4 linked regions of the Homo sapiens genome follow. The protein of the gene in region 3 binds, or shares a complex with, the protein of the main gene of each other region. Each region holds a gene or a part of one and is shown on either strand. Other genes may lie near its edges. The genes, in order: CCNC, MED13, MED12 and MED26. A codon is read from its position in the direction of its gene.

What was found.
Region 1: the proteins of MED12 (region 3) and CCNC are in contact, whole or in part, in a cryo-EM structure (PDB 8TQC), measured with the Homo sapiens proteins. Residues at the interface, in NP_005111.2 of Homo sapiens: Ile6, Leu7, Ser8, Tyr9, Glu10, Pro13, Leu14, Lys15, Arg18, Leu19, Pro22, Asp23, Val24, Tyr25, Asn47, Pro49, Ala50, Val51, Asp54, Glu55, His56, Gly57, Ser58, Ala59, Lys60, Phe64, Pro66, Ile69, Asn72, Phe73; in NP_005181.2 of Homo sapiens: Gly3, Asn4, Phe5, Trp6, Gln7, Tyr11, Ile15, Asp17, Gln19, Asp20, Lys23, Gln49, Glu53, Leu57, Arg58, Gln59, Ile62, Tyr153, Arg157, Pro158, Gln161, Tyr162, Asp165, Leu173, Pro174, Trp177, Arg178, Ile179, Asn181, Asp182.
Region 2: the proteins of MED12 (region 3) and MED13 are in contact, whole or in part, in a cryo-EM structure (PDB 8TQC), measured with the Homo sapiens proteins. Residues at the interface, in NP_005111.2 of Homo sapiens: Ala3, Phe4, Arg12, Pro13, Arg16, Leu86, Thr123, Thr127, Thr150, Pro152, Val153, Met154, Arg155, Phe242, Pro278, Leu281, Arg282, Arg356 (codon at 203), Pro357 (codon at 206), Phe360 (codon at 215), Gly361 (codon at 218), Cys364 (codon at 227), Gln367 (codon at 236), Thr368 (codon at 622), Cys372 (codon at 634), Pro407 (codon at 739), Glu408 (codon at 742), Phe413 (codon at 757), Val417 (codon at 930), Lys1526; in NP_005112.2 of Homo sapiens: Ser157, Glu158, Thr336, Val337, Pro339, Gln340, Ser341, Gln343, Lys344, Trp345, Lys347, Phe348, Asp1186 (codon at 2,853), Ile1189 (codon at 2,862), Leu1190 (codon at 2,865), Gln1193 (codon at 2,874), Asp1194 (codon at 2,877), Pro1332, Ile1333, Thr1335, Leu1337, Tyr1340, Asp1341, Tyr1342, Asp1343, Tyr1344, Leu1345, Val1346, Leu1347, Ser1348.
Region 4: MED12 (region 3) and MED26 share a complex: the UniProt entries of both Homo sapiens proteins name them as parts of the mediator complex.

What each region holds. Positions count from the first base shown.
Region 1 is NC_000006.12:99,541,858-99,544,667, reverse strand, and holds the end of CCNC (cyclin-C), read left to right. Parts: intron 1-394; coding exon of another isoform or gene 395-446; exon of another isoform or gene 447-888; intron 889-1,058; coding exon 1,059-1,113; 3' UTR 1,114-2,281; downstream 2,282-2,810. UniProt on the Homo sapiens protein: Component of the Mediator complex, a coactivator involved in regulated gene transcription of nearly all RNA polymerase II-dependent genes.
Region 2 is NC_000017.11:61,978,264-61,985,299, reverse strand, and holds part of MED13 (mediator of RNA polymerase II transcription subunit 13), read left to right. Parts: intron 1-209; coding exon 210-300; intron 301-434; coding exon 435-649; intron 650-932; coding exon 933-1,129; intron 1,130-2,185; coding exon 2,186-3,102; intron 3,103-7,036. UniProt on the Homo sapiens protein: Component of the Mediator complex, a coactivator involved in the regulated transcription of nearly all RNA polymerase II-dependent genes.
Region 3 is NC_000023.11:71,121,579-71,128,614, forward strand, and holds part of MED12 (mediator of RNA polymerase II transcription subunit 12), read left to right. Parts: coding exon 1-238; intron 239-621; coding exon 622-768; intron 769-929; coding exon 930-1,029; intron 1,030-1,159; coding exon 1,160-1,296; intron 1,297-1,516; coding exon 1,517-1,648; intron 1,649-2,015; coding exon 2,016-2,142; intron 2,143-2,580; coding exon 2,581-2,810; intron 2,811-3,185; coding exon 3,186-3,266; intron 3,267-3,397; coding exon 3,398-3,568; intron 3,569-3,772; coding exon 3,773-3,917; intron 3,918-4,084; coding exon 4,085-4,135; intron 4,136-4,457; coding exon 4,458-4,576; intron 4,577-4,762; coding exon 4,763-4,906; intron 4,907-5,390; coding exon 5,391-5,554; intron 5,555-5,757; coding exon 5,758-5,889; intron 5,890-6,314; coding exon 6,315-6,542; intron 6,543-6,717; coding exon 6,718-6,862; intron 6,863-7,019; coding exon 7,020-7,036. UniProt on the Homo sapiens protein: Component of the Mediator complex, a coactivator involved in the regulated transcription of nearly all RNA polymerase II-dependent genes.
Region 4 is NC_000019.10:16,618,205-16,625,240, reverse strand, and holds part of MED26 (mediator of RNA polymerase II transcription subunit 26), read left to right. Parts: intron 1-7,036. UniProt on the Homo sapiens protein: Component of the Mediator complex, a coactivator involved in the regulated transcription of nearly all RNA polymerase II-dependent genes.

The sequences.
Region 1 (2,810 bases), on a different chromosome or scaffold from region 3:
GATAAAGAATTTTGGTTTTTAAGTGACCCTAAGGTCCATGGCACATAAGAATATATTTTTGCTAAAAATGAATCACCTGTGCTAAGAGGGTTTTTTTTGTTGTTATTGGGGTGTATGTGTGTGTTTTAAGTAAGATGTGTTCATTTAGTTCAGTGGTTCTCAGCCCTCACTGTGTATCAGTTCATTTGGGGCAGGGAGAAAAAGTCAGAAGGGAAATAAAGAAATGCCATCCATCTTAATTGTTTCTTTAGAAAAATGATTGTTATATAACAAGATAGATTTATGGATTGCTACTCATAAGTTAATGTTACAATTTGGAAAAAGTTAATACTTTATTCAAGGAGCTGTTTAAGGCAGTCATTCAAACAGCTACCTTTGGATGCATTTTTTGCAGAAATTCCCTGAGTGATTCTCCACTAGTGGCAGGGCCTGAAGCTGCAAGATGATGGTGGACAAGATAAGGCAATAATCCTATTGCCAAAGTTACTGGTATTTTCAGTTTTAGTTATTTTTAAGTATTCAGCATTTTTATTTTAAGTATTCAGCATTTTCCAGGAAATTACCATATTTCTTGCTGACTTATAAAGGTTTGCTGTATTTATATATGATTTTATTATGCCTTTGGACAACAGTTTTGGTTTTTTTTTTTTTTTGAAGAACACTTCTTGTTTTTCATAAATAGTAGGAATAGGATTTTATATGTAAGATTTAATTTTATAGGAAATTTGTTTAGAAGAAGCTGTAATCTCTATGTTGAGTGATACCTGTAATAACAATGAAATCCCATACCCTAATTTAAAGTTTTTGAGTATATATGGACACTAACTTCCAGAATGCTTGTTATATGTGAGGGCACAAAGTTATATAAGAATAAAAACATAAAACCAATGTTTGTTAGTCTTCTGGATTTTAATTTTTCACGTGTCTTATAATGAGGAATGTCTTTGTTTTGTATAGTTGTGCCACAGAATAATGAATTTAAAAGTCAGTAGGCTTATCAGGGTGTAAAAATGGATCTTTTAATTGGTATAAAATCTCTTTCTTCCCCATTTGAACAGTGAAGGAGAGCAGGGTCCAAATGGAAGTCAGAACTCTAGCTACAGCCAATCTTAAAACATTCCGAAGAATTCCATAGTGGACCACTTGGAAATAAACCATTGGACAGATTTCAGTAATGTCTTCAGTGGAACACAAATGAAAATGAATAGCTTGTTTCTGTCAAGCATATTGGAAAGTGATTTTATTTTTGCAAAATAAGTTTTTCTTTAATATGATTCTAGTACATAATTGATTAAAATCTCTTGATTATAAATGTTTGGAAAGGTTCTAAGGGGACCTACAGACAGACATACATAGACATTTCAAAATTAATAGCTTTTGATTAGTATAATATTTCTTAATTTGGATAATAAAAATTGTAGCTTTTTATTAAGCCAGGAAACATGAAGCATAATTTGTTTAAAATTCTCTTTGGTCATTGAGGGACCAAAAAAGGACGTAAAATTTACAGTCAATCTATGAGGGTTTTTTTCCCTCCATAAGTTTAACTTTAAAACTGTATTTAAGGAATCAAATCTTACAAAATCCTGGAAGATTTTGGTAATGATGTTGATAATTTCAGGGAAATTAATCAAGTACCTATATTGATTTAAAAGTGTATTTTATTCAGTAGTTTGAGGATCTTGCCATGGAAGATACTAGCCCAGCCTAGCAGAAAAGTGCAATATGTATAGCATACTTTGACATTTTAAACATGATAGTCCATAACCATTTTGAAATGCTGGGCAAACTACATGAAGTTATTTATAATTAATTCACAGCTAATCAGGCATTTTGAAAGCTTAATTGGATTCAAAAACCATAATGTTGGAATTTGGTAAAATTTTAATGTTGATTTTTACTGTGAAAAGGTTTTTATAAGATATACACACCCTAGTTTAATGTTGTGTCTTGGTGTGGATTTACAGATTTACTACAGGTATTCTGAACCAGGAACACAATCAGGTTTCAGGCCAGTTTGATACTGGCTGTCCTTAATTCTAATATGAGAGTAGGACATCATACTAAATGTTATGTCAGTGGGACTGTACTGTCTGTGGAACTTAGCAAATTAATCATTTTCTTCAGACTTGAAGGAGAGTGATAAATAAAATTTGGAGTCATAGGATATTGATGCACAATTTAAGGATTAAACATTTTTAATCAATTGTGGATGATGGCTTATTAAATGTTGACTTCCTAGTATAAAACTGCAAGAATAAAAGTAACTTCTCCAGCTGTATCGACTAGTGTCTTGAATTTATCTTTTTGAATTTGCCTGATGTTGTTTTTTGAGAATTCTTCTTCCTTTAGTTAAGTGTTAAAGCCTTTTATAGGTTGTCAAGGGGGTAATTTCAAATCATTACAAACAGATTTTAAATAGAAAATTTATTTCTGATGGAGCGTATCAAATGAGCTGGAAAGCGAGACTGTGTAAAGTCAGACTGATGACATATATAGGTTTCCTGGGCTTAATAAGAAAAAAAGCTCTCCTCAGGTCTGAAGGAATTAATGTTGGGCTTAGGTAAGACCTATAGTCTTTAAGTGTTTATTTTTAAAATTAATACCATGCCTCATAGTTTTGTTTTCAGTCTCTTATTGTGGAAGATTTAAAACAACATATACAGGAGTAAAGTAAGGAACCTCCATGTACCTATCATCTAGCTTCAGTAGTTATCAATTTATGGCCAATTTCATTTCATCTAAACTCCCACCCACTTTCCGTAAGTTGCCATCCCCCATCTTATTTTGAAGCAAATCCTAGATATCAT
Region 2 (7,036 bases), on a different chromosome or scaffold from region 3:
TTTGGAGGCTTACCAAATAAATTAATCTGGAGTCAGTGATTAAGAAATATTTTATATCTTTCAACACTAGTATGTATTTGGCTGTATCACAGATTCAAAATACTACTTTTAATGAATGGGCTTTACTGTTAAGTTATATCTGAATGATTACTATTTTGAGATCACATTGGATGTAAAATTTTAGATAAATATGTGCTTTTTTTAAATAGCCTGGATCTAAAAAATCAGCAAATGGATCAGATGATAAAGCCAGCTGCAAGGAATCAAAGACAGGAAATCTGGACCCGTTATCTTGCATAAGTAAGCTTCCCTCATCTGTGCTCGAGATAAATTTGCGAACTTTTAATCTCAACAAAGCTCCCCACTCCTTTTGGTTTAAACACAGATTCGCCTATTTTTAGTCATGTTAAAATGTATGTTTTTATTAAATATAGGCACTGCAGATCTTCATAAAATGTATCCTACACCACCATCATTGGAACAACATATTATGGGATTTTCCCCAATGAATATGAATAATAAAGAATATGGTAGTATGGATACAACACCTGGAGGAACTGTTCTAGAAGGAAATAGTTCTAGTATAGGAGCGCAGTTCAAAATTGAGGTTGATGAGGGATTCTGTAGCCCCAAACCTTCTGAAATTAAAGTAAGTATGTTTTTTCTAGAAAAATAATTCACTTCCTATATTTTCTTATAGAATTAATTTGTTGCTATAGTCAAAAATTATTTTATAGTGGTTGCGGTTTTGTAGCTAAGTTGAGGACTGAATTATTGTTGTCACTATTAAGAATGCATTTAAGAAAATAATAGAATTGTATTTAGATTTTATTCTGTTTAAAGAAAGGAAAAAAGGTCCAGAGCCTGTTTGTTTATTTATTTTTTCCTCCTAGAAGATAAGATACTGAAAACCTACCATCTTTATATTGTAGGATTTTTCTTATGTCTATAAGCCTGAAAATTGTCAAATTCTAGTGGGATGTTCCATGTTTGCACCTCTAAAAACTCTACCAAGCCAATATCTGCCCCCTATCAAATTGCCAGAAGAGTGTATTTACCGTCAGAGTTGGACTGTTGGAAAATTGGAATTGCTTTCTTCAGGGCCTTCAATGCCATTCATCAAAGAGGGGTATGATTTATGTTGTTACAATAGTATGTGACTGCTTATACAGCTTTAATTTTTTTTTCATAGATTTACCTGGTATGCTGGAAAAATAAAATTGGTTTTTGAAAATTCTAAAAATTATTTCTGGTTAATCAATTATAGTGATTGGCTGGGAGCAGTGAATCACGCCTGTAATTCCCATACTTTGGGAGGCCAAGGCAGGCGTATCCCTTGAGGTCAGGAGTTTGAGATCAGCCTGGCCAACATACGAAACCTCGTCTCTACTAAAAATACAAAAATTAGCCAAGCGTGGTGGCGCATGCTTGTAGTCCCAGCTACTTGGGAGGCTGAGGCACAAGAATGGCTTGAACCTGGGAGTCAGGCATTGCAGGGAGCCGAGATCGCACCAGTGCACTCCAGCCTGGGCAAGAGTGAGACTTTGTCTCAAAAAAAAAAAAAAAAAGGTTAATTGGGTATGGATAAACTATTAGGAAACTTAAGACTATTATGCTTGATTTGTATTCCGAAGCACCTTTTCTTTTGGGCTGCAATTTTAAATTGCTCCCATTTTTACATTTGCCATCTTTTCCACACTTTTCACATTTTAACATCTCTGACTTGGTCAGTTTCAACTCAAGGCTAAAAGAAATCTGAATCTGAGATGTCTTATAAGTGGTAGCATTTTAAAATTACCATTTTTCCCTTTTTACACATGAGCATCTCTAAAATCATTTTTCTTTTTTTATAGTCAGTAGCATCTTAGAATCAAGGAAATATAAGTATTTCTAGTAAACAAAATTTATAGATAGTAAATATGGATGTCTAGGTATGCATTAGTGTATAGAGTGCTTATTAATGATTTTTGAACTTGTTAATTGATCCTTAGTCAACAACAATCACTTAGAGTAGATATGTTAACCAGAAATAAGAATTGACTGTGCTTGTAATTCTTGCAATACTTGTCCTTTCATAATTTTCTATGTAATTGAAAAACATTTGGGACGTTTTTAGTTGTATTTCACATTACTAATATGTTCCTTTATATATATATTTGATCTTCTTTTACCCTGGTGATGATAGTGATGGAAGTAATATGGATCAAGAATATGGCACTGCTTATACACCTCAAACTCATACTTCTTTTGGGATGCCTCCTAGCAGTGCACCTCCTAGTAACAGCGGAGCAGGAATTCTTCCTTCTCCATCCACCCCTCGGTTTCCAACTCCAAGGACTCCAAGGACTCCTCGGACTCCTCGTGGAGCTGGTGGACCTGCTAGTGCTCAAGGTTCAGTCAAATATGAAAATTCAGACTTGTATTCACCAGCTTCTACCCCATCTACATGCAGACCCCTTAATTCTGTTGAACCTGCAACTGTCCCTTCCATCCCTGAAGCACACAGTCTTTATGTAAACCTCATCCTTTCAGAATCAGTTATGAATTTGTTTAAAGACTGTAACTTTGATAGTTGTTGCATCTGTGTTTGCAACATGAACATCAAGGGTGCCGATGTTGGAGTTTACATTCCAGATCCAACGCAGGAAGCACAATATAGGTGTACCTGTGGCTTCAGTGCTGTCATGAACAGAAAATTTGGAAACAATTCAGGATTATTTCTTGAAGATGAACTAGATATCATAGGACGCAATACAGACTGTGGCAAAGAAGCAGAAAAACGTTTTGAAGCTCTCAGGGCTACCTCTGCTGAACATGTTAATGGAGGACTAAAGGAATCTGAAAAATTATCTGATGATTTGATATTATTGCTACAAGATCAGTGCACTAATTTATTTTCACCCTTTGGAGCAGCAGACCAAGATCCTTTTCCTAAAAGTGGTGTAATTAGCAATTGGGTACGTGTTGAAGAGCGTGACTGTTGCAATGACTGCTACCTTGCATTAGAACATGGGCGTCAGTTCATGGATAACATGTCAGGAGGAAAAGTTGATGAAGCACTTGTGAAAAGTTCATGCTTACACCCCTGGTCCAAAAGAAACGGTAAAGTATGCCAATAAAATACTTTTTTGTTTGCTTATTTCCCTTTAGTTACATTCTTAGGAAAAAGTAATAAAGGCAGTTTCCCATGTGGCAAATACATTTAAAGTTGGACTTAAAACTCTTTATGGATGATGTTTTTAAAGGGAGAATTTCTTAGCAGTTTAGTTTAATTTCACCAATAAAAGTATGGTTATTATAAATCTGTAATTATATACTTATGTAGGAATATGAAAGGCACATTCCATATATTTATTAGCATAACATTGCTAGTGGTCTGCTTTATTCAACATTCTTTCACTCATTAAGTATTTACTGGGCACCTTGTATGTGCCAGGTATTAGCCTAGATTCACTGTTGAACAAAGCACACATATTCTTTGCCCTTTTTGAATCTATAATTTAGTGGAGAAAATAGGAAATAAACAAAAAAGCATATAATAGATAGTAAGAAGTAATTTGGAGGAAAAGCAGAGTAAAACAGAACAAGACACCACATATGTACTATTTTAGATGTATGGTCAGATAAGATACTACTGAGGAGATAGCATATGGGAAAACTCCTACATAACATAGAATATGAGCTATGTAGTTAAATGAGGGAAGAGTGTTTCAGGCAGTGCAAAGACCCTGAGGGAGTATTTTGCTTTTACATGTTTGAGGAACATTAAGGTGACTGATGCTGCTGGAATGCTTTGTGTGATAGGGAGACTGGAAGGAGATGAAATTTAGGAGGTAGCCATTCACCAGCATCATTTAGAGTCTTATAGACCATGTAAGGCCTTTGTGGTTTATACTAAATGTGATGGGAAGCTATTGAACAGTTTTGACAAGGAAAGTAACATGATCCTTATTCTGATTGTTTTTTAAGAGATCTCTCAGTCTGGCACAGTGGCTCATGCCTGTAATCCCAGCACTTTGGGAGGCTGAGGTAGGCAGGTCACCTGAGGTCAGGAGTTCGAGACCTGCCTGACCAACATAGTGAAATCCCGTCTTTACTAAAAATTTAAAATTAGCTGGGCTTGGTGGTGGGCGCCTATAATCCCAGCTACTCGGGAGGCTAAGGCAGGATAATTACTTGAACCTGGGAGGCGGAAGTTGCAGTGAGCCAAGATCGCACTACTGCACTCCAGCCTGGGCAACAGGAGTGAAACTCCCATCTAAAAGAAAAAAAAAATGGCTGGGTGCGGTGGCTCATGCGTCTAATCCCAGCACTTTGGGAGACTGAGGTGGGCAGATCATGAGGCCAGGAGTTTGAGACCAGCCTGCCCAATATGGTGAAAAATACAAAAATTAGCCAGCATGGTGGGGCGTGCCTGTGGTCCCAGCTGCTCAGGAGGCCAAGGCAGAGGAGTTGCTTGAACCTGGGGGGCGGAGGTTGTGTTGAGCTGAGATAATGCCACTGCACTCCAGCCTGGGCAACAGAGCAAGACACTCTGTTGCTATTGTGTGGAAAATAGCGTTGGGGTTTGGAAGTAGTGAAAGTGAGAACAGAAGCAGGATAAATCAGTTGGAAGGCAGTTTCAGTAGCTTAGGTGAAAGATGATGGTAGCTTAGACAAGATAAGAGGCCAGCGAGATGTAAGTAATAGGTTTTAGGTTATTTGGGAAATAGAACCTACAGGGTTTGCCAAAAGACGTGTAAGGAAAGATGAGGCATCAATAATAGCTTGAGCACCTGGGTGAATGGTAGTACTAACTACAGAGGAGGGAAACACGGGGGAGTAAATCAGATACACATTTGGAGATAATATGTTTTAAATTCAGAGGAATGATTGGGTCTGGAGATAGAAAAATTTTGTGTGTGAGTTATTATGAAAAGCTGTGGATCTGGATGAAATAAACTGTAGAGTAATTGTAGATAGAGTAGTACAAGGATGGAGCTGACATTTATAAGTGGGGAGGGAGAAAAGGCACCAGGAAAGGAAATTGAGAAGGAGGTTGGAGGAAAACCAAGGGAGCATGGTATCCTAGAAATCAGGTATAGGGAATTTTTGTTTGTTTGTTTTTGTTTTGAGACAGAGTCTCGCTCTGTCACCAGGCTGGAGTGCAGTGGCGTGATCTCGGCCCACTGCAACCTCCACCTCCCGGGTTCAAGCAATTCTCCTGCCTCAGCCTCCCAAGTGGCTGGGACTACAGGTGCACGCCACCACACCCGGCTAATTTTTTGTATTTTAGTAGAGACGAGGTTTCACTGTGTTGCCCAGGCTGGTCTCGAACTCCTGAGCTCAGGCAATCCACCTGCCTCGGCCTCCCAAAGTGCTGGGATTACAGGTGTGAGCCACCGTGCCTGGCCCGGGAATATTTAGAAGAGAGTGATCATCTCTATCAAATACTTCGATACATTAAGGTGAAAACTGAGACAGGCTATTGGATGTGACCAAATAGAAGTTGGTGGTCACCTTGATAGGCAGTTTCAGTCAATCTGATTGGAGTGGGTTCACAAAAGAACGGGATGAGAAGCAAACTTAGACAATTTTCTGGGGACTTTTGCTGTAAATAGCAGAGAAATTGCATAATAGGGTTAAAAGAGAGGTTTATTATTATTTTATTAAAGGTGCATTGGGAGTGATCCTATAGAAAGGAATTTTTTTTAATTGACAGATATGGCTTATGGCTGTAATCCCAGCATTTGGGAGGCTGAGGCAGGCAGATCATTTGAGCCCAGGAGTTCAAGACCAGCCTGGTGAACATGGCAAAACCCATCTCTACTAAAAATACAAAAATTAGCTGGGTGTGGTAGCATGCACCTGTAGTCTCAGCTACTTGGGAGGCTGAGGTGGGAGTATAGCTTGAACCTAGGAGGTGGAGGATTCGGTGAACCATGATTGTACCACTGCACTCCAGCCTATTTGACAGAGTGAGATTTTTCTCAAAAAGAAAAAAATGGCCATGTTTGCAGGGTTGAGTAATCATGATAGTACAGATGGAATGTTATATGGCTTCTGAAAATGAATTACAGTTATGTATAACAAATAGATGAATCTTAGTGATACTATTGAGGAGAGGAAGAGGGAACAAGTCCCAGAAGATTACATATAGTCAGATACCCTTTAAAAATACCTCTTTAATGTATTACCGTTAATAAAGTTTTGAAACAAGCACAACTAAATGTATTATTTACATGCACATAAAATTGAGAATATTGGTTAATTCTTGAAATTTCACATGTGTCCAAAAATGACCAAGAGATAGGGATAGGGAGAAACATTTAATAAGATCGTTTTTGGTAATGTTCTAGTTCTTGGGCAGTGAGATTACAGTTGTTCATTTTATTATTAAAGAAAATTTTTGAAATGTAAGAGGACAACACATGGACCAGTGATTAAGTTCATGTATATGACAGTATCAGCATTTATCCAATTATTCATTCTCAGGGACCAAATTTAAAAAGGGAAAGACACAAATAAATATCATAGGTATTCAAAAAAAAGGAAAGATTATTTTAAGCCATATAGAGTAGTTAAGATCATAGGCTGTGGACTCAGACTGCCTGGGTTTGAAACATGACTCTAGCACTATATACTACCATGACTCTAGCACTATATACTACCTGCTACCTTGGGCCAAGTTAGTTAACCTTTCTGTGCCTTGATTTCTTAAAATAGGGTCAATAATAGATTTACTTTACAGGGTATTGAGAGAATCAAATGAAATACAGAGCAGTTGATCCGCCCACCTTGGCCCCCCACAAAGTGCTGGGATTCCAGGCATGAGCCACCCAGGAGTTTGAGACCAGCCTGACCAACCTAGTGAAACCCCATCTCTACTAAAAATACAAAAATTAGCTGGGCATGGTGGCGCATGCCTATAATCCCAGCTACTCGGGAGGCTAAGGCAGGAGAATTGCTTGACCCCATGAGGTGGATATTGCAGTGAGCCCGAGATCCTGCCATTGTACTCCAGCCCAGGCGACAAGAGTGAAACTCGGTCTGAAAA
Region 3 (7,036 bases):
TCAGTCTGCATACCTGTCCCGCCGGCTTGCCTACTTCTGTACACGGAGACTGGCCCTGCAGCTGGATGGTGTGAGCAGTCACTCATCTCATGTTATATCTGCTCAGTCAACAAGCACGCTACCCACCACCCCTGCTCCTCAGCCCCCAACTAGCAGCACACCCTCGACTCCCTTTAGTGACCTGCTTATGTGCCCTCAGCACCGGCCCCTGGTTTTTGGCCTCAGCTGTATCCTACAGGTAGGTACTAGGCGGGCCCAAGGAAGCATTGAGAGATAGCCTGAGAAGAATCAGGTGCCCATCCCAGAGAATAGGGGTAATTCCAAATTGGATGTGGGAGTAGGTGCTGAGTACTTGCTTGGAGGTTGTTGTTTCTTGGTAATGGGGTGTTAGTCCCCTTTGGGGGTTTTCACCAGCCTCTCTCTCCCTTCCAAGGCTAAATAGTGGGCCCAAAGCCTTTTAGGAAAGTGAGTGAAGGGAGGGGATCGGGGTGGAGTGATGCCTGTCTTGGGGACCCAGTCAGAATAACTTTGGATCTGGAATCTACGGGTTGGGTCTTAGAATGGGATTCCAGAGGGGTAACCATGGTGAATGAGTTGGACTTAGCTGTTTCTATCTGGTAGACCATCCTCCTGTGCTGTCCTAGTGCCTTGGTTTGGCACTACTCACTGACTGATAGCAGAATTAAGACCGGCTCACCACTTGACCACTTGCCTATTGCCCCGTCCAACCTGCCCATGCCAGAGGGTAACAGTGCCTTCACTCAGCAGGTATGTCTGACCACTAGCCTGGTACTCTCAGATTGGGCTATGAGGCTAAATTACTCTTTCAGAAGTAGTGATTTGGAGTCTAGTACTATTCTTCTAGCCTGGGGCTCTGGCCTTTTATATGCCTTGGTACATCCTTGTAGCCTTCCTTTTTAACATTGCAGGTCCGTGCAAAGTTGCGGGAGATCGAGCAGCAGATCAAGGAGCGGGGACAGGCAGTTGAAGTTCGCTGGTCTTTCGATAAATGCCAGGAAGCTACTGCAGGTATGTGTCAGAGAACAGATAATAGGAAATATGTTTGAGGAAAGGATGGGGATAGTAAGGACATGTAGATCTAAGAGCCAGAATGCACCGGGCCTCTGGTTCAGTCCCCTTTACCACTTTTCCTCCTTAGGCTTCACCATTGGACGGGTACTTCATACTTTGGAAGTGCTGGACAGCCATAGTTTTGAACGCTCTGACTTCAGCAACTCTCTTGACTCCCTTTGTAACCGAATCTTTGGATTGGGACCTAGCAAGGATGGGCATGAGGTAAGCGAAAAGGGGAATAGAAGGAGCAAAAAACATTGCAAGAGCAATAATATGTCTGAGAGGGAAGTCATGGTGAGGCATTGAAAGCAGAGCATATCTGCAGAAATGATCTTACTGGGCCCAGGATGTTTTATGATAGAGCCCAGTCTTTAGGAAATTGGAACTCATTTCTTTGTCCCCACCCCTACCTTACTCCTCCTTCTCTTCCTTTGTTCTCCAGATCTCCTCAGATGATGATGCTGTGGTGTCATTGCTATGTGAATGGGCTGTCAGCTGCAAGCGTTCTGGTCGGCATCGTGCTATGGTGGTAGCCAAGCTCCTGGAGAAGAGACAGGCGGAGATTGAGGCTGAGGTTAGAGGGCAGAGATAAGAGAACAAGATTGGCCAATGGGAAGGAATTTACTGCGGTTGGAGACCGAGAGATGGAGGTGGTGGAGGGACCAGAGTTGAAGGTGTGAGAACAGAGTAAAGAAGCAAAAGAGAACCTAAAGGCAAAGTTACGGACGTGAGGCGAAAGTAGAGAAGAGTGGATTGTAGTAAGAGTTAGAGATAACATCAAGGCTTCAGTTGGGAGGTGGTAAAGAACATGGAGGTCAGCAGGGGAATGAAAGTGAAAAGCATGGGGTAGAGGTCAAGCAGGTGGTAGTTTAAGGCCTACACATTGAGGAGTGAAGAAGCAGGTAAAAGTCAGTTCTACAATTTGTTCTGTCATCTTGCAGCGTTGTGGAGAATCAGAAGCCGCAGATGAGAAGGGTTCCATCGCCTCTGGCTCCCTTTCTGCTCCCAGTGCTCCCATTTTCCAGGATGTCCTCCTGCAGTTTCTGGATACACAGGCTCCCATGCTGAGTACGGACCCCTACCACTCTCTAGTTACCTCTGCCTAGACTCAGTTACCCACCACTGTCATCAGAAAGCATAATTAACAGCCCTCTGGTCTATATTTCTCTCTTGGGCTCTATGCAGAATGACTTTTAGATGTAGTTCTAGTGATCCTCTTTAACTGGTCATCTTACAGTTAAACAGAGTAGAGAAATACAGAGAAGGATAAAAACAAGAGCTTGTGATTGAAGCATTTTCACTGCATAAATCGCAACAAAGATGTTACATTCCTTTCTGAGATGATGTGTGGGACAGCATGTGGGGTAACCAACCACACTTTGTCCCTCAACAATTTCTGGGATTTCTATTTGATCACTCTTATTATTGCCTTAGGTGTGTCCCTCTCTCTTTTGGCCCACCTTTTTGTGTTCTCCTAACTTATGTTTCCTCATTCCCTTCCTCCAGCGGACCCTCGAAGTGAGAGTGAGCGGGTGGAATTCTTTAACTTAGTACTGCTGTTCTGTGAACTGATTCGACATGATGTTTTCTCCCACAACATGTATACTTGCACTCTCATCTCCCGAGGGGACCTTGCCTTTGGAGCCCCTGGTCCCCGGCCTCCCTCTCCCTTTGATGATCCTGCCGATGACCCAGAGCACAAGGAGGCTGAAGGCAGCAGCAGCAGCAAGCTGGAAGTGAGTGGGCTTTTCCTTGCACTAGATCGTTTCTTCTGACATTTCCATCTTCATGGCTCCCAGGGGCCTCTAAGAGCCTCTTTTGCCTGGGGGAGGGGGGTAGTATTTTTCTTAGCACTTGGTGATTGACCAAGCACTCTCACATCAATTGTTTCATTGGTTCCTCCCATCAGCCTTGTGAGGTACTCTTATCCCCATTTTCAAACTGAAGAAAACAGAGGCCTATACTGGTTAAGTGATTGGATGAGGCTTGACTCCAGATCCTGTGCTTTCCCCAATCTGGTCTTCTCTCTCCACTTCCCCAATGAAGTTTTACAGATGGTGGGAGCCACTCCCTAGGGCTAAAGCAACTTCGCTTATGTTCTATGCCCTCAGGATCCAGGGCTCTCAGAATCTATGGACATTGACCCTAGTTCCAGTGTTCTCTTTGAGGACATGGAGAAGCCTGATTTCTCAGTAAGTTCAATCCTGAGCGTGGCAGAATCTGGATCCTTGGATCTTCCCATTATGCCTGCTTTTGGCATGTTTTTTTGCCCCCTCATCCACTTTCCTTCTTCTCATGTTCTGCTTTCTCACCTTTCTCTCAGTTGTTCTCCCCTACTATGCCCTGTGAGGGGAAGGGCAGTCCATCCCCTGAGAAGCCAGATGTCGAGAAGGAGGTGAAGCCCCCACCCAAGGAGAAGATTGAAGGGACCCTTGGGGTTCTTTACGACCAGCCACGACACGTGCAGTACGCCACCCATTTTCCCATCCCCCAGGTACTATTCCCCAGCACCTTGTGATGATCTGTTTTGAACCCAGATTGCTGTCAAAGGAATTTGCTGAGGGGTTGGAGCTGTTCTGAGGATGTGGGTTGGGAAAGGGAAGGGCTTTAGCATGTGGATGCTGAGGGGTGTGGAGCATGCTTTCAAGAGGAGGGAAGGAGATCGGTGCTGGAGTCTGATGGTGCTGCTGGGATGCAGGAGGAGTCATGCAGCCATGAGTGCAACCAGCGGTTGGTCGTACTGTTTGGGGTGGGAAAGCAGCGAGATGATGCCCGCCATGCCATCAAGAAAATCACCAAGGATATCTTGAAGGTTCTGAACCGCAAAGGGACAGCAGAAACTGGTGGGTTTGAGGCTCCTTAAACAGATCTCCCCCAAAGAATGCCCTAGTCAGTCTTCCCTTCCCCAGTATAGGGAACTCCCCAGTCATGTCCCAATGTCCTGTCTCTTGGAGTCTCCTGAGAGCTCTAGTCCTTTTGAAACTTCCCCCCTCATTCCCCCCCTCTACAGACCAGCTTGCTCCTATTGTGCCTCTGAATCCTGGAGACCTGACATTCTTAGGTACCTCACAGTAAGCCCCATACTGCCCTCCCTCCCTCTCCCTTCCCTCCCTGAACCTAGCACCTCCCTGTACATATTCCTTTAAGGTCCACATAGTCTGTGGTCCTCTAAACCTTTGCTTCACTGTCCCCTTCCCTTCATTCCTCCCCCATCCCTTCCTTGACCCTCCCTTCCCTGTTTCCCTCTTCCTTCCTTCCCTCCCTCCCTCCTTCCATCTCTCCCTCCCTCCCTCCCATAGCCTTCTCTCCATACCCCACTCCCCACCCCTAGTCAACTAGTTATCTTCCCTGTCTTGACTGGTCCCTTTCAACTGTCCCCTCAGGTGGGGAGGATGGGCAGAAGCGGCGACGCAACCGGCCTGAAGCCTTCCCCACTGCTGAAGATATCTTTGCTAAGTTCCAGCACCTTTCACATTATGACCAACACCAGGTCACGGCTCAGGTGTGGGCCTAAGCCCAGCCCCTTTCCCACATTCTGGCCTCCTGTTCTGTTTTCCTTTTCTTCCCTATCTTCTCCCTGCTAGGCAGGCTAAGCCTCCTGGTCTCATCCCCTTCCAGTGTCATCCTTTCCTCCTTCCCTGGTTCTTTCCTCTCTCCACTCCCATCTCACTCCCACTGCCCTTATCAGGTCTCCCGGAATGTTCTGGAGCAGATCACGAGCTTTGCCCTTGGCATGTCATACCACTTGCCTCTGGTGCAGCATGTGCAGTTCATCTTCGACCTCATGGAATATTCACTCAGCATCAGTGGCCTCATCGACTTTGCCATTCAGGTGGGGAAGTTGGGGAGATGAGGGTGGAGGCAGGAGTTCATGCCATATAGCGGCTACGGAGGGTCATAAGGACAGGCGTAGAGGCTCCAGCCAGTTTCCCAAGCTATTTGAAGGGGCAGAAAGACTAGCATGGGGGGAGTGGAACATGAGCTAAGACTGCAGGAATAGAGACTTAAGTGCTCCCTGGGGAGGCCAAGAGGCAGATTAGAGCATTGGGCACAGACCATCCTCCCACTGTGGAGTTCATAGAACTGTATCCTGGACACTGGTTAGAGGTGTTGTTGATAGAATAAACTATCAACAATAAACTATCAATAGAGGTGTTGTTGATAGACTGTGGCATAGGGTAACGAGCCCTTCTATCCTGTGGTGGCTCCAGCAGGAAGGGGCTCAGGCCCAGCCTTGCCAGCGTCCCCACAGGAAGGTGGTTTCTATGTAACACAAGGGGCCTCTTTGCATTTCTCACCCCCGTTTACTCTGCTAGCTGCTGAATGAACTGAGTGTAGTTGAGGCTGAGCTGCTTCTCAAATCCTCGGATCTGGTGGGCAGCTACACTACTAGCCTGTGCCTGTGCATCGTGGCTGTCCTGCGGCACTATCATGCCTGCCTCATCCTCAACCAGGACCAGATGGCACAGGTCTTTGAGGGGTAAGCAGAGCTTCGGAATAACTGAAACAAAGCTCTGGCGAATGCCGGTGGAAGTGGCCTGGGAAGAGCATGCACTTCCTCACACTCTGGGGAAGCACCTGCTGCTCAGGTGGGAAAAGAATGGTATTTCCCAGAGGCTTGAATCTGTTTGGAGGAGCCCGCATACCATCTGCTGACCCTCCCAACCTTGCTTCTTCATGCAGGCTGTGTGGCGTCGTGAAGCATGGGATGAACCGGTCCGATGGCTCCTCTGCAGAGCGCTGTATCCTTGCTTATCTCTATGATCTGTACACCTCCTGTAGCCATTTAAAGAACAAATTTGGGGAGCTCTTCAGGTAAGAGAGGTGGAAGGTAAGGGGTAGCGAGTGGGACCTACTCCCTTCTTCCCATGACCACCCAACTCAGGAGGAGAGGATGGCCCGGGACCCTGCTGCCTGTCTAGGGTCATTTGTGGACTGTGTCCTCCACATACTGTTGTGTTACCAAGAGTGGGCCCTCTTCCTCAGCAGGCTTGCTCCCCGCCTATATCTGTGGGGCCCACCCTCTTCCCCCTTTTCCTCACTGCCTTCAGAGGCCCCAGTTCCTTATTCCCATGTGGTTCCTTTCCTGCCCAGTCTGTTTTGTCCCATCTCCCTTTTCTTGTCTCAAGATCCTTCATCCCTCACTTTCTCCTTTTTTTCTTTTCTCCCCTTTCCTGACCATCCCTCGACCTCAGCAGGCCTTCTTCAACACTACTATCTCCTTTCCTCCATCCCTGCAGCGACTTTTGCTCAAAGGTGAAGAACACCATCTACTGCAACGTGGAGCCATCGGAATCAAATATGCGCTGGGCACCTGAGTTCATGATCGACACTCTAGAGAACCCTGCAGCTCACACCTTCACCTACACGGGGCTAGGCAAGAGTCTTAGTGAGAACCCTGCTAACCGCTACAGCTTTGTCTGCAATGCCCTTATGCACGTCTGTGTGGGGCACCATGATCCCGATAGGTATGGGGTGTACTGAGTGAGGAAGGGCACCATGCCCCCATCTGAGATAGGGAGGGCTGAGGTACCCGGGAGGTACTACAACCTTGATTATTTAGTGGGGCAGAGATGAGAAGTTAATGGGTCTGAGGTTTTGTGGAGCAAGGTTTTTCCTGAGGGCATTTGTACTTTTCCCTAGGGTGAATGACATCGCAATCCTGTGTGCAGAGCTGACCGGCTATTGCAAGTCACTGAGTGCAGAATGGCTAGGAGTGCTTAAGGCCTTGTGCTGCTCCTCTAACAATGGCACTTGTGGTTTCAACGATCTCCTCTGCAATGTTGATGTGAGACTTGGGGTGGGGTTTTGCTAGTGGGGCAGTGACCAGGGCAGGGGGCTGGTTGTGATCCTCTGACCAGGGACAGAGTTCCGTAGAGTGGAGGCACACCGCTTTGAGTGGGCCTCCACACTGAGTCATGGTGTCTGTCTGTTTTTTCCTCCAGGTCAGTGACCTATCTTT
Region 4 (7,036 bases), on a different chromosome or scaffold from region 3:
TCAGAGTTAATAATTTCTGCCAATTCAGTAATAAAGTAAATCCTCTACTCTCCTTTTGAAAAGGCTACTAACAGTTTTTCAGAGCAGTTGGAGCTTTTCTTTTCGTCGTGCACCCTTTCAGCCCAGGGTGTTGAAAATCTCTCCGAAGCGCAGTGTGTGCATGATTGTTCCAGCTTACTCTCACTGCATTGTGGGTAAAGTGAAGGACTGTGTCTTACTCTCGCACAGCAGTCATAGTGAGCAGTCTCCTCAGCAGGTGATTCGGTTCCCATCTGCCTGGGACACTCGTTCTGTGGAGGTATGAGCTTTATCTTCCTGTGCAGCACGCAAGCTTCTTGGGGATGTTTCCTGTCTTGTCTTCTCCCTCTAGAGCAGAAGCATTAGGCACACTTTCTACCTGCTGCTTAAACTGACTGAACCCTAGCATCCATCTTGGACCTGTGCCTGAGGAGCTACATTTGAGCCCCATTTTACCAAGAAGCCTTTGTGACCACTTTATGCCCAAGAGTTCAGTCGTGGAATATTCTAATGCAGAACTTTGGAGAGTGGAAGAATCACAGGTGGCTTGAGATGCTACTCAGTAGAACTGTGAGGAACACAGATGTTAAGTGATGATTAACAAACTTAGCTTTTAGAGGAAAGGTCCGACGAATAGTAGACGGTGTACTGCATCCTCATGGCAAGTAAAATAACCGCACAGGGCAGGGCTTGCTAGCTGCAGGTGAATGCCCTGTGTTCAGACCAGGGAGAGGCCTGAGAAGGTCCCGCAGCAAAGAGGGACTTGAACTAGCCCTGGCCGCGTGTGTCAGTGCCTCCAGCTGCCAGGCTCTGAGCGGGAAACGTCCTTGGGAGCTGCTTTCTTTTTCACAGCTCTTCAGGCAACAGAGACCAAGGGAGAGGTGACCGAGGCACTCTGCAGAGAGACACAGCAAGAAAGATCATTTTCCCACCTAAGAATTGGAAGGTTGGATGTTGCTTACCTTGGTTTGCCTGCAGATTTCTTGTCCACAGGGTGGGATTGGGAACTGGTGTATGCACCCCATAAAGCTCCTTCCAGATCTAAGTTCAGATCCTAGAAGGGACAGCAGAGACTAATGTCAATTGTTCTAGAAGGGGTTTTTTTTTTTTAATATATCTTTGCAAGGTACATTGTGTGAAGTTTCTCAACTAACAAAATTCTAAACCAAGGTGTATGCTTTGTTAGTTTGTGTGGCACCCTGTCAGAGAGTTCTGCTTCTCCCCAACAGCCTTGTGAGTGGGGGAGCCAGTCTCCCCTTTTGCAGGTGCAGAAGCCAGCAGCATCAGGTAATAGGTGCTGCTCAGTGGGTGTCTCCAGGGGCAAGCAGAGGATAAAATGCTTTTGTTTCTTACTGACTTAATGGGAGGTGGTGGAACCAAAGTTAGGGACTTACCCAGAGTCATTAAGTGACAGTCCTTAGAGTCCTTTCAACTCTGAACACCACCACGCTGCCTTGAAAGTTGGAGAGATGGCTCCGGAAGAGGCACGAGGGGGCAGCATTTTTGAGCTGGTAAGAAAACGTGTGAGGATCCTGTAACGTCCCCTACAAGTGTATGTGAGATTACAGATTGGGGCTGGATTTACCTATGTTACATCTAACAGGGTGGTGATATGACATAGCCTGTCCCGTGAACATCTTAAGGTCTCTGTCACAGACAGAAACCTGGGCCAGACCACGGTGTGGCAACTAGCAACCGATGTGGAACTTTTCATGAATCTGTGTGACCAGTTTGCTCTCTACTTCAACATTACAGCACTTTTGATATTAACTTAAAATGCCATTTATTCTGCAGAAAAGCAGAATGGTGTAAATTGCAAAATGAAGGACTCTTGATTCTGACCCTATCCAAAATAGTAGAGGACCCTAAACCCAAACATGTAAATGCCACCTGATCCACAATTGCCCAGATTCAGGGACTCTCCTGTCTTTACTCTGTATATTGTGGCCAGGACACAGGAGAGGAGCAGCGTGGTGTTCTCTGACTTCGGGAAATGGAAAGGTAGCAAGTATCACCTGTGACACAGGTGTATGTCCTTGTCTTTGACTCATTCTGTCCCTCAGGAGAAAGTGGACTTTACAGTCTCTCCTCACTGAGGTTTCTGGGTGGTCCTCAGAATATGTTGTCCTGGTTGGAGGTCCCAGAGCCCTGGAGGACTGTCCAAGACCAGCATGTGGTCAGGGGCTTTGTTCTGGATACAGATGTAAAAAGGCACCATGGTCACGTCAGCCCCTGGGCAGCTGTGTAAGATAGGACATGTAGCTTAAGGGCGCCAAGGTCTCTTAGGTGAAGGAGGACACTTGGCTTTCCTTTTCTTGGTTTTGGGGTCTGCGAGCATCTTCTCAGATGGAGCTCTAGTTTAACCAGGCTGACTCCAGGTGACTCCAGTCCAGCGGGAGGGGTCCCCTGGCCACTTCCCCACTATCATCTCCTTCTGGAAACTGGGTGCTTTGTTACTGCACGTTGTGCTTTTCCTTTGTATTCCTAGTGGTAGGCTGTCCCACGTCTGCCTGGTTCCTTTGGGGACCAGGAGCTGGTTGTCAGAATGGGTGGCCAAGTTTGTGGCACAGTGAGTAAAGGAGAGGCAGCACATTTCATTCCAGTGTGGTCTCGCTAGCACCCATGCTTGGAGCACCTTCCAAAACAGCCGCTTTTCACTCTTAGAGCAGGGTGTGGATTTGCCATCGGGATTCCCTGAACCGGGAAGCATTTCCTGAGTAAGAAAGACATACCGATAATTCTACATGCTGTATTTAAAGGCCTTCTCTGAATACATTCCATGCCTTGGGAGGCACTGCAGTTACATTTCAGTCACTAACTGATTAGCAAGTGCTCGTGTGCTGGGTGTAGAGGGTACAGACCTGAAGATGCTCAGCCCCTGTGCCCAAGGGGCTTGGCGCCTCATAGGGAGGAGGGCAGATAGAGCATGGTCATGAACGAGCTTGGGTGGGGTGCCGTGGCATGTGGGCTCGGCAGTCAGGGATGGCCTGATGGTGCCGCAGGTCTCAAGTCCAAATGGAACAGTTCTCCCCGTGCCTTATTTGAAAACAGTTGAGAATTCTTAAGAATATGAGATGGCTTTCTTAAGTATATTCTATCATCCAGGTTTTCAGAATAAGTTCTGTAGTCAGGCAGGCAGGCTCTTCTTGCGTTGTCTCTGGCATGAGGGGAACAGAGCTGGAAGGAACAGTCGGCAAATTATTGCACAGTTTTCCCTCTCTGCTGTGGGATGGGGCACAGGCAGATGTCGAGCTGTGTCTGTGGGTATGGTTGGGGTGTCTGGGCTTGAGAAAATGGGAAGGGCCTTGGGGTAGCATTACATGGCACTGGTTTTCAGTATTTGGGGTGTTGTTGTACCCTCTGGATTAGATTTGCTCTGTGTGGCTTTTGGAGGCAAGCCTAGGGTGGGGAAGGTGAGAGTTCTGTGATGTGCTTAGGGAAGTGGTGGATTATTGTCAGAGCTGACTTAACACAGTCTGGGGGCACTGTGAGATGGCTATGTGGACATACCCAGGCCCTTGGATTCTGTGTATAGGCCTTTGGATTCTGTGACCATCCAAGTACCGGGAGGTTCTGCGATTCTCTGTGGAGCCTATTCAAAAGGAGAGGGGTCATGTCAGGTGAAGTACCAGCAGCCCTCTGGGAACTCACATCCCAAGGATTGCCAGGCAATTGGGGTTAAAGGCCTTTGGATGTTACTGTGACTGCAGCAAAGTTTCCTGGGTTCATCCACTGCAGGAAAATGAATCTTGGAAAACGTCAGGGGGCTCATCAGGTTTCCCCTGCATGCAGAGTTAGGCTCGGTCTCCTGTGTGCCAGCAGCAGTCTCTGTTGGGCAGCAGAGGCTGCAAGACGAACAGCCGCTGTTTACTGAGCACTTACACAGTGCCAGACACTACTGTGTGGAGTGTCTCATTGCTTCTTTGAATTACTTCTAGGGTAGGTGCTTCATCTTCATTTTAGGGGCTAGGAGAGATTCACCGATTTGTCTGGTATTGCAGACAAGGGAACCAGAAGCCTTGGGTCTGAATCCATCACTGGGTGGTTCTGATGTCAGAGGGCTTAACTACGACAGTCTTCCGCTTCCCACATCGGTGGTGCCCAGCATGGAAGCTGAACTCCATTGCGTCTTCCAAGGTGTACCCTTGCAAACATGAAGTGTTTTCACATGTTACATTTTGAATTCCATTCCTTCCCAGTTCCTACAACTTTTCCCCCTTTAAATTCCTCTAGCCTAGTGGCTCCAAACCTTTTTGAGTATGAGGGTTCATTTTTATCATCAGAAACCTTCTGGAAGCTTCACATAACAACAGGTGTGCTTTGAGTAACTGTTTTAAAGAAAATTCGAGGACAGAACCTACTCCTAATCCAGTCATGCTTCGAAATGAAGTTCTGTCTTGTCATCAAAACAGCATCAGTGTAACTCTGAGAGCAGGCCTTACCTGTATGTGTGTGACACCTGGAATTTGACCTTTGTGCTGCCTCCAGTTGGGAGCCTCCTGTCATCCCTACTGCCTCCCTTTTCTGAAACCTTACCTGGCTTAATCCAAGACCGTCTCCCTCAGGAACCATTCATCATTTTAACACCTTATATTCCTGCTGATAACAGGTCTTGTTGGTTACATTTTCCATGTGATTGTGAAGTGCCCAAGTAGGAGAGCAGGTGTTGCTCCCTTAGTGTCTAGAACTGCCACAGCACGTGGGTGCCCAAATGCTTGGTGCTCTCACTGTAAACAGGGCCAGTTTTGGGAATGGCTGTCAGCGTTACTGAGCAGGTCCTAGGTGCCAGCGGTTTTCAGCACTTCACCTGCATTCAAAACACATTTAATCTTCATAGCAGGTGTAGATTAAACAGGAGGCAGGTACTAGTGAGGAAACTGAGGCTCAGCGGACACAGCTGGAAGGAGGCTAGATGGGATGAGGCTGGGGTTGGAACACAGCCACCTGCTGGCTGCCTCCCTTGTCATGTGAGAGGCCAGTGGGCACTTGCTGCGCAGGCACTCCCCTTTCTTGCCTGGGTCCAGCTGTTTATGCTGGATTCATCTGTGCACTGCTCTTATGCCAGACTGGGAGGACAGTGGTCACTAAAATGCTCTGTGCTTTCTCTGGAACTGGCTGAAGAAGGGGTGTGAGGTGTGTTTTCCTCTCTTTCTCGTCAGGTATTTTTCACCCTAATAGAGAAGGCGGCGCTTGATCTTAGATTTCTGCCTGTCCATGGTCCCTAGACACTGTTCAAATGTCACTTCATCTGTGAAGCCTGGGTCCCCAGCGATCCTTCGGCCTTTTTTGGTCATGTGACAAAACATGGCATTCCTGGACACACATCCCCCCAGATTTTCATTTGCTATGGTGAGAAAGTAGGGTGCTGCTTTGTCCAGGCCACACCCTGGTGGTGGGTCAGCCTCGTGGCTGCTGTGGAGACTCGGGTATTCGTGTGCTGGGTGCACAGCATGGTTTTATAGGGCGTTGGCTGTGGCTGGCCTTGACTCTGGTGGGGGTTCTGTGGTGCAGGCATCAGCAGTGGGTGAGTTACTGGGAGGACTCAGGTGGGTGTGACCCATGGCCCACACCGAGAGCCCAGTGGGCTGGCAGCACTCCCAGGCCCTGGCAGCCCCACTGCCTGCTTGTGCCTTCAGCACGGTAGTGCACTCTTCTGTTTCCCACCCACACTCCTGGTCACATTGGCTCTCTGGGCAGCCCCCTGCACACACTGGGTTTAAGTTCTTATCCCCTTGATGACTTGTTTTGATGTCCCCCGTTCTAGTCATCAGGTTCCTGGCCCAGCTTGAGTTAGGCATGGAGAGGTGGCCACATCCTCGTTCCCCCCAGGGTGATGTAGTAGTTACCATGGTAGCTAACGGCTCTCCTGTTCTGCAGGCCAGCCCTCCAGAACCCTTTATAGATGCTGCCCAACTCCATTCACCTCCCAGGTGCATCTTGCATGGTGCCTAGGCAAGCAGTCAGCAAGCTGGCTTTTCAGTGCTGTCAGTGGGAGACCCGTGATACTGATGTGAAGGGATATAAAATAAGAACAGTTTTATCCTTTTGGGTGGTCATTGGTTCACATTGTTTCCTTCCGTGTTAATTGGTTGCCTGCACAGCACTTGTCTTTACTTCCTATACTAATTCTGTGGCCTGTCCAGCCCTAAAGGGAGGTTAGCACTGTGCTGGTGGCAGGAGCTTAGACACAAAGGGGCTGATGGTCATGCAGGCCCAAAGGCAAGTCTGCGGTCAGGTGAGGACCTGGTTTTTCTGTCTCCCTCTTTTGCAGTGTTGCCTTCACACAGTAGGGTGTCTTCCTCTCCATCCCAGCAGTTTCAGGATTTTCCCTCACCGAACTCCCGACTCTTTGCTGGAAGCCCCACCAAACGTTTCCTTATGCCTTCTCTGAGCTTTGATTGGATTAGCAGTTTGATTGAATTAGTTGATTGGCTTACCCCTGAATCTGCTGTGGGTTCCACCCAAACAGTCCCACAATAGAGGGGATGTTCCCAGGAGACATCAAGGTCCTGTTAACGGGAGAAGAATAGTGGATCCAGTGTCCATGGATGTGCACTGATGTCATCACCTCTCCTGATGTGACCGCCAAATAGTTGGGCCTTGGCTCCAGAAGGCAAAATGGGAGTTTTTGGGGAAAAAAATGGGAAATGTAAGGTCCAGAGTAGCAACAGGGTGGTTTGGCTGGTGTGAGGTCACCGCGTGGAGTTGTGAGTACCTTCTTGTTCTGGTTAAACCACAGACTCCATTTGCCTGTAGTCACCCTTGGGGACCTCGCTGTCACGCTGTCCGAGTGCAGGTGCTGGCCAGCTGCAGCTTCAGATCCTGTCCTGGGCTGGAGACAGTCTTGAATGGTGCTGTTTTTTCCTCCCTGTCTTGACAGTCTCTCCTGGTGCTTCAGTCACTGCCTGGAATGGAGCTCATTGCTGGGGGAGGTGGTGCGGTCCAGGTGGCCTGAACCCCACCAGGCCTCCTGTGGTCATGAGGAGACTGCGCTGTGACCCAGGCAAGAGCTGTGGCC